2 linked regions of the Homo sapiens genome follow. The protein of the gene in region 2 purifies or fractionates together with the protein of the main gene of each other region. This does not show direct contact. Each region holds a gene or a part of one and is shown on either strand. Other genes may lie near its edges.

Region 1 (3,500 bases), on a different chromosome or scaffold from region 2:
AGGATAGCATGACTTAAAATGTGAGCTATGCAGCATATATAAAATTCTTCTGGGGGTCCTGAGAGTCTCCCAAGAGGCAAGCGGTCACCGTGGGGGGCAGGGGGGACAACAAGCACTGACTGTGTCTGAGCCAGGCTCTGTGCAGCTGGCCCCAGCAGGCATGGTACTGTGCATGACTCTCTTAATAGTTCACGGCTCCATGCACCTGCAGGGAGGCACCTGGCCTGCTGTCGCAGGGCTCCGGGAGCCGGCCGGGCAGTCCTACCTTCCTCGCAGCTCACTCCTGAGTGCCCAGGGCAGCACCTCCACTCACGGGCGGTCACTATCTTGTACATCACCTTGTATGTGGGTCTCACCACAGTTCTGTAGCTGAAAGAGTCCCCAGGTGGCCCAGCTGAGACAGGGTCCTCCATGACCTCTCCCACTGCCCTGGACACCCATGGGGACAAACCTAGAGCTTCCAGGATCCTCTGCTGCCTCCAGGTCCCTTTGGAGGCTCTCTCCTGCATTTTGGGATTCAGCCCTTCCATCCCCCCACCACCTTGCCACAGGGATTGGAGATTGGATACCAGCTGGACAAGAAGACCCTGCAGGCTGGGCTGGCCTGAGCCCAGCGTGAATACTCACTGAGTAAAGGAATGCAGGCAAATGGTGTATCCATCCCTCAGGAAGCCCTCCAGGGTGCTTCAACAGCACAGGGGATAGGCTGAGAATGGTGTCGGCTGATGCTACCTTTGCTCCGCCCACCCTGGGGTCCAGTCTTCCCCCACACTCCCCATGCAGTCCCCCAACCAGGCCTTTGCCCAAACTGTGCCTCCACCTGGAATGCCATCAGTTCCTTCTCCACCTCATTTACCTGCTCCCCGGACAGCTCATGGGCCAGGGGCAGTTCTGCAGCACTCGCTGAAGGTAGGTGCCATTCTGCACATGGCATGAGATGGTGCGGGTCACCACATAGGAGCACCAGTTCCTGAAACAGACCCAAAGAGAGGAAACTCAGGTACCACACAGGGTCCCCTGCTGGGGACTCCAGGAGGATGGGTGAGGACGTCCGTGTTCTCTTCAAGAGCCCTGAATCCCCAGGCAGCGAGAAGCCCTGAGCTTGCAAAGTCATTTGGGCCCAAATGGCTGGGGGGAGTCCCTGTGGCTGAGGGGTGAATGTCATGGCCCTAGGGGTGGGGCTGTGCAGAGAGTTCTCAGTAGGTCTTGAGGAATGAATGGCAGGGGAAAGATGGAAGCGGGCCATCTTCCCCTGAGCTCTCGCTCCCCAACTTCTCTCCTCTCCAACTTTGACCCATCCAGGCCATCATCACTGCCTGGCTCTTGCCTGGACAACTACAGTGAGTGGCCTCTCCATCTGCCCCTCGGTCCCTCCCTAGAGGCAGTGTCACAGAATGGAAACCTGCCTACATCCTTGCCTTGCCTACCCAACTCCCCAACCCTCAGGATCTCCTGTACCCACACCTGCCCCAGGCCTTTGCTGGTGCTGGGCCCTCTGCCTGGAGTACCCTTCCTCCGCTTCTCCCCATGGCGCCTCCTACCTTCAAAGCCCAGATGTGACATGGCCTATTCCCTCCATCCTTTCCCATCTCCACCCTGACCCGAGCAGTTCTGATGGTGCCCTGCCCTGGCTCCCGCAGCATCTGCACACCTGTCACGCTGAATTAAGCTGCCAATTTGTGCCTGCCCCCTCCGCCAGCATGCAAGAGGAGAGGCCCTGTCTCACCCATTCCCATGTCCCCTCCGTGGAATGGCTGGGATGTGTAATCAATGCCCCAAGCCCAGAGGACTGAGTTCTCCAAACACCAACTAATAATCGGAGTGCACTGCACATATTGAGCACTTATTATATGCTAAAGGTATTTACACTATCCTCTGATGGTGAGGAAGGTACCCCCACCCTGTTTTTACAGAGGGGAAACTGAGGCTTGGGGAGGTGAAGACAACTGCTTATGTCACAGCTGGTGCGTGGAGAAGCCAGATTTGAACCCAGCAAGGTGGATGGCCTAGCCCAGCCTCTGACGCCATCCCAGAGCCTCAGCTCCCGTCTTCTCCTCATCTCCTTGAGCCACGGTCTGTGGCTCTGTAAACGCCCCGGCCTGGGAACCTGCTGACCCCAGGCTTGAGGGCAGGAAGAAAGTCTGGGAGGGGTGGGGGACCCAGGCTGAGAAGGGTCACCTGAAACCATCCCTCCTTCCCCAACCCCTGCAAAAAGCACAGGGCCCGTGACCCTGTGCAGGGCTGAGGGCTGCTGAGCACCTGGAATGTCCCGGCCTTCACAGAGACTCCCATGCCGACCACAGTGCAGCCCCCACTCGCTGCAGCCCTGCCCCCACCCCAGACCACCAGAAGGAGAAACTCCTGGGCCAGGACCAGGCAACTAACTCAATTTAGGGCCCTGTGGAATTCCCTTCATCTTTCTGTGCCACACCAGAATCAGTGCTGGAAGAGGAAACAACCTAGGTACAGCCCTGGAGGTGGGAAGGCTGGGAGAAGGGATGGTTCAGTTTGGCCCATGAAGCAGGAGAAGCTCAACAGAGCCTTCAGCCAGCCATCCCATGCAGAGGTGACAGGTGCCTGCCATGGCACCATCAGAAATGGCACAAAACTGGGAACAGCCTAAACAGCTATGGAGCCACCGGACATGGGAAACCAGATGCTGTGACAAAGCCCGAGGTCTCTGCGTGCTGACCTGAGACCCAGCTATCACACCTAGTTACGGGGAGGAAAAAAGCAGACAAAGACCAATGGATATACAGTGATTGCATTTCTATTACATTAAGAGAGAGACAGAACGTCAACTATTTCTATATGCGTGCACATGTACAGATATGTGCATATAAAGTGAGAAAAAAATGACACTTTTCTCAAACTGCCATGTCTGGGAGCAAGGAGGGCTTTCCATCTGCTCCGTCTACTACACGAACAGTAGCTATGTTTATCATGCTTGCTGCACGCCAGGAGCTGTGCCCAGAGCCGTCCACGTGTTCGCTCAGTTAAATTCTCACACTCTTATTAAAAAGCCACTTCAGGCTGGGCACAGTGGCTCATGCCTGTAATCCCACCACTTTGGCAGGCCGAGATGGGTGGATCACGTGAGGTCAGGAGTTCGAGACCAGCCTGGGCAACATGGAGAAACCCTGTCTCTACTAAAAATACAAAAAATTAGCCGGGTGTGATGGTGGGAGCCTGTAATCCCAGCTACTCAGGAGGCTGAGGCAGGAGAATTGCTTGAATCTGGGAGGCGGAGGTGGCAGTGAGCTGAGATCGCACCATTGCATTCCAGCCTGGGCAACAGAGTGAGACTCCGTATCAAAAAAAAAAAAGCCACATTACAGATGGGAAGACTGAGACTCTGGGGTCCAGGACGTGCCCCAGGCACCCATGATAGGCGGCACAGTCAGGGTTGGAACTCAAGTCCCTCTGGCTCCAGAGCTTGCACTCTCAACCCTAGGCTAGAAATGTTTCTCCTAATGAGTAGGTGAAGATTTCAGCCCTTT
Region 2 (4,021 bases):
ACATGCTTCAGTGGAGAAATAATTTGTATGGTCTACTGGATTAGTCTTTGATACTATAATTTGAGCTCATTTTTAAAAAACAGCCAAATCTGGTTTTAAGGTAATTCTCTATGCCCAGAGTCTTAATTATGTGTCAATTTCTCTGTGCAAATCTATTGATTTTGGCAGACTTACAAATTTAGCATTCAAGCAAGAAGAATATGTCAAAATTGGCTCAAATTTCCTGTGCTTCCAGATTTGTTAGAAGTTTCTTTGTTTTGTAATCATTTATTTTATTACATATTTTGCTTTTATCCATTCCTTTCCAGGGTCCCAGTACAATTAAACTGCAATCCCCAGAAGTTTCCTGTTATGTGCTCAAAAACTGAATCTAATATTTGTAGATAATGAATTCCAGCAGGATCATTCTGATAGCCCTGCACTTCTAGAAATTCTGACGTTTTGGATCTCCCTCTTTCTGGCTCCTATTCTTCTACTTCCCTTCCAAAGAAGATCCTTTGCCTCACTCATTTTCATTAAGCTAACTGGGAAACAGCATTGACTCAGGTTCTTATTTCTGAGTTTTCCCCAGAAGTAGGAAGAACAGTAGTGCAAGGAATAACATTGCATAAGAAGATTGCAGCTTTTATTTCAGGGTCTCTTTCATTTGGCATATAATGCAAGTGGCATGCTGTGTGTTTCATTTTAACTTCGTTAAGCTTGTGTTTTCACCGGGGCCTTACAAATAGTGGTCAACGGCCATTTCACAGAATGGAAGTCAGGGTTCTTGGATTCTAACCCTGGTCCTTCTCTTACAGTGCTGTAAAATTTGGGCCACTCAATTCTCTTTTGGCCTTTATTTTCCATCTGTAAAATGGGATGCCTGGAATACTAGTGTTCCATTAATGTGGCAGGGTGCAGCTGCAGAAAGATAGGGTGGTAAAGGGTGGGGAGAAAGAATGCCTTTTTTAAAAAAAATCAGTCAAAGGGGCTCTATTTTAATATACTATATATAGAAATGACACTGTAGCTTTCATCTGTGTATCAAAACCCCAATCTGGAAACTAGCATTGGCCCCTCTAGAATAAAAGATTTTAAACATCACTTCCTCCATGAAACCAGTTTCTGGTCTTCCTATTCCCCACTTGAATGTGACTCTTTCTTTCTTATGAGGTTTCAAAGACACAGAAAATTTTGTACAGAATCCCATGCATCTAATTTACCTGATGCATGGATTCTTGCCATAAACAATATTCTTGACAGCCTCAATGTCACAATCACAGACCTGAAGGAACCTAAATAATTAAGCTGATCCAGCCACTTCTATTCACAGGAATTCATGGAAGATGCTCAGAGAGAGAAAAGTAAAACTTGCTGAAATCGTTAATGTCCCTAGGGTTAAGTCACTTTATCATTAATGGAATAATGGGGAGTGCGATAAAAATAATCCTATAACTGGTATTATGGTTGACAATTTTCCCCATGGGTCTTGTGTTATAATTATGCGCCATTTGAAATCCTCTATATTAGATGTGAGCTCATTGATGGGAGGAACCCTGTTCTAGTGTGGATCTTACAACTAGTGGTCAATGGCAATGTCATAGGACTTGGAGGGAGTCTAGGTTCCTGGATTCTAATCCTGGATCTTCCATTTGATTGCATTTACTTTGATCAACTCGATTCTCTTTTGAGCTTTATTTTCCCATCCATAAAATGCAATGGTTGCAGTACTAATGTTTCATTAATGTGGCAGACGGGCAGTGGCAGAAAGATAGAGAGCTGGTGGGGAACATCTTCCTCTAACCCATACCCAGGTCTTGCACAACACACATGAGGGTAAGTGACATAAAAACAGTATCAAAAAGTAGATATCTATGACGGTTTATCAGATTAAATGAAAGGCTCAATGGCTTTTATTTTAATACAGCTAGAAACCTGACCTTAGGTCTACCAATATTTTCTCTTTCCCCATTTTCCCCTCTGCTCTCTTCTTTTCAGATGTACTTTCATTGTGTAGACTACTAACAGGACAATGCAGGGGTAGGGCCAAGGAAAAACAGAGAAATAACTAGAGGAAACGATATAGTACAGTAGAGCAGAAAGGAGTGTGGTCAAGAGAAATAGCTTCTTTCAACAACAGTCTGCAGTCCTCTTCAGTACTAAAACCAGCAAAACACACATACAACACTAGGAACGCCACTCAGAAGGCTGACACCAAATTTTTTTTTTAGAGATATGTGTAGGCCATTTGGCAAATGATGACAAGGTCTGGTGGAAAATACTCGGCTAGAAAATCAGACAGCAGGAAAGGAGGGATGAATAAAAAGACAGAAAAAGAATTATAGAAGAAAGATGAATGGAAAAAAAAAAGACAGGAGGAATTATTTTTCCTAATGAGAAATGCAACATTTTCCACCAGACAACTGTGACTCTTGGCTGAATAACTTATGTATCATGTGAATGAAAGTGCAGGGTGGAGGGGGCAGTCCAGGAAGATGTGTCTTATGTCCACTTTGTCTCTGAAGGCAATGGGTTTACTGCAGGTCTCAAGTGCACCACTGATTCACTAGACCACCCCTCAAGGAGGTAGCCATGACTGTTACATAGAGGCTGGAAAGAGTAGGAGACTGGAAGTGAGAAAACCTATTCTGGGCCAAGCTCCATTTGCTTTCCCTTCTTGATTTGTTGTAGAATCTGTGAGGCCAGTGTCATCATCTGTTAAGTGACAGGGATAGATTTTTTCATGATCTTTGAGGGCTCTTTCAAGCTATAGCATTTTTATAATTTTAATAACTACCACTTCCACCCTTGTTAGATTACATTTCTTGAACAAAATAATTACCCTTTCCTCCCTTGCTTTTACGTCACTGCCCCAAAGCAGTTAGTTGACTTGAAGGTGTTCTTTTGGAGTCTCTTCCAGCTATAAAATCTGTGACTCTAAGAAATCCACAGTTTACTTAATTCCTTAGCAATACAAAAGAATAGTCATTATATCAAATCCAGCAAGTCTTCATTTAGGTGAACCTATCCACCTTTCAAAATGTATCAAGTCTCGCCTATGAGGAAGTTGACATTTTATCAAGCATTTCCAAGAGAATTTCACAGCTACCCCTTTGGAGTTTATCAATGAGCAGATGATATTAGTAACAGAATCCATTTGATTCTGAGAGACGAGGTCTATGAAGAAAGGGAGGCAGCAGTTTATTAATTTCCATTGTTAAAGGAGGCCGGGCGCAGTGGCTCGCGCCTGTAATCCCAGCACTTTGGGAGGCCGAGGCGGGCGGATCACGAGGTCGGGAGTTCGAGACCATCCTGGCTAACACGGTGAAACCCCGTCTCTACTAAAAATACAAAAAGAAATTAGCCGGGCGTGGAGGCGGGCGCCTGTAGTCCCAGCTACTCGGGAGGCTGAGGCAGGAGAATGGCGTGAACCCGGGAGGCGGAGCTTGCAGTGAGCCGAGATGTCGCCACCACACTCCAGCCTGGGCGACAGAGTGAGACTCCGTCTCAAAAAAAAAAAAAAAAAAATGGCCAGGAAGGAATCCCTGATTAACCAAGCTGACTAACCATGGGAGAATACTTGCAAGCAATTGCTGCCCTCATCTAATTATTATTATTATTTTTTTTTTTTGAGGCGGAGTCTTGCTCTGTCGCCCAGGCTGGAGTGCGGTGGCGCCATCTCGGCTCACTGCAAGCTCCGCCTCCCGGGTTCACGCCATTCTCCTGCCTCAGCCTCCCGAGTAGCTGGGACTACAGGCGCCTGCCACCACGCCCGCCTAATTTCTTTTTGTATTTTTAGTAGAGACGGGGTTTCACCGTGTTAGCCAGGATGGTCTCGATCTCCTGACCTCGTGATACGCCCACCTCGGCCTCCCAAAGTGCTGGGATTACAGGCTTGAACCACCATGCCCAGCCTCATCTAATTAAATTTTAAGCCTCTGTGGCACTTATCACTTATACGGGCAATAGATGACTGGTAAGGAGCTGACCAGGCTTTCAGATATGGGACAATCCCAAGGAGGAACAATTGTGATTCTAATTC

What was found.
Region 1: the proteins of P3H2 (region 2) and EMID1 purify together in Homo sapiens (co-immunoprecipitation; one large-scale study listed by IntAct). This does not show direct contact.

What each region holds. Positions count from the first base shown.
Region 1 is NC_000022.11:29,212,396-29,215,895, reverse strand, and holds part of EMID1 (EMI domain-containing protein 1 isoform 1 precursor), read right to left. Parts: intron 971-3,500; coding exon 857-970; intron 370-856; coding exon 266-369; intron 1-265.
Region 2 is NC_000003.12:190,110,592-190,114,612, forward strand, and holds part of P3H2 (prolyl 3-hydroxylase 2 isoform a precursor), read right to left. Parts: intron 1-4,021. UniProt on the Homo sapiens protein: Prolyl 3-hydroxylase that catalyzes the post-translational formation of 3-hydroxyproline on collagens. Contributes to proline 3-hydroxylation of collagen COL4A1 and COL1A1 in tendons, the eye sclera and in the eye lens capsule.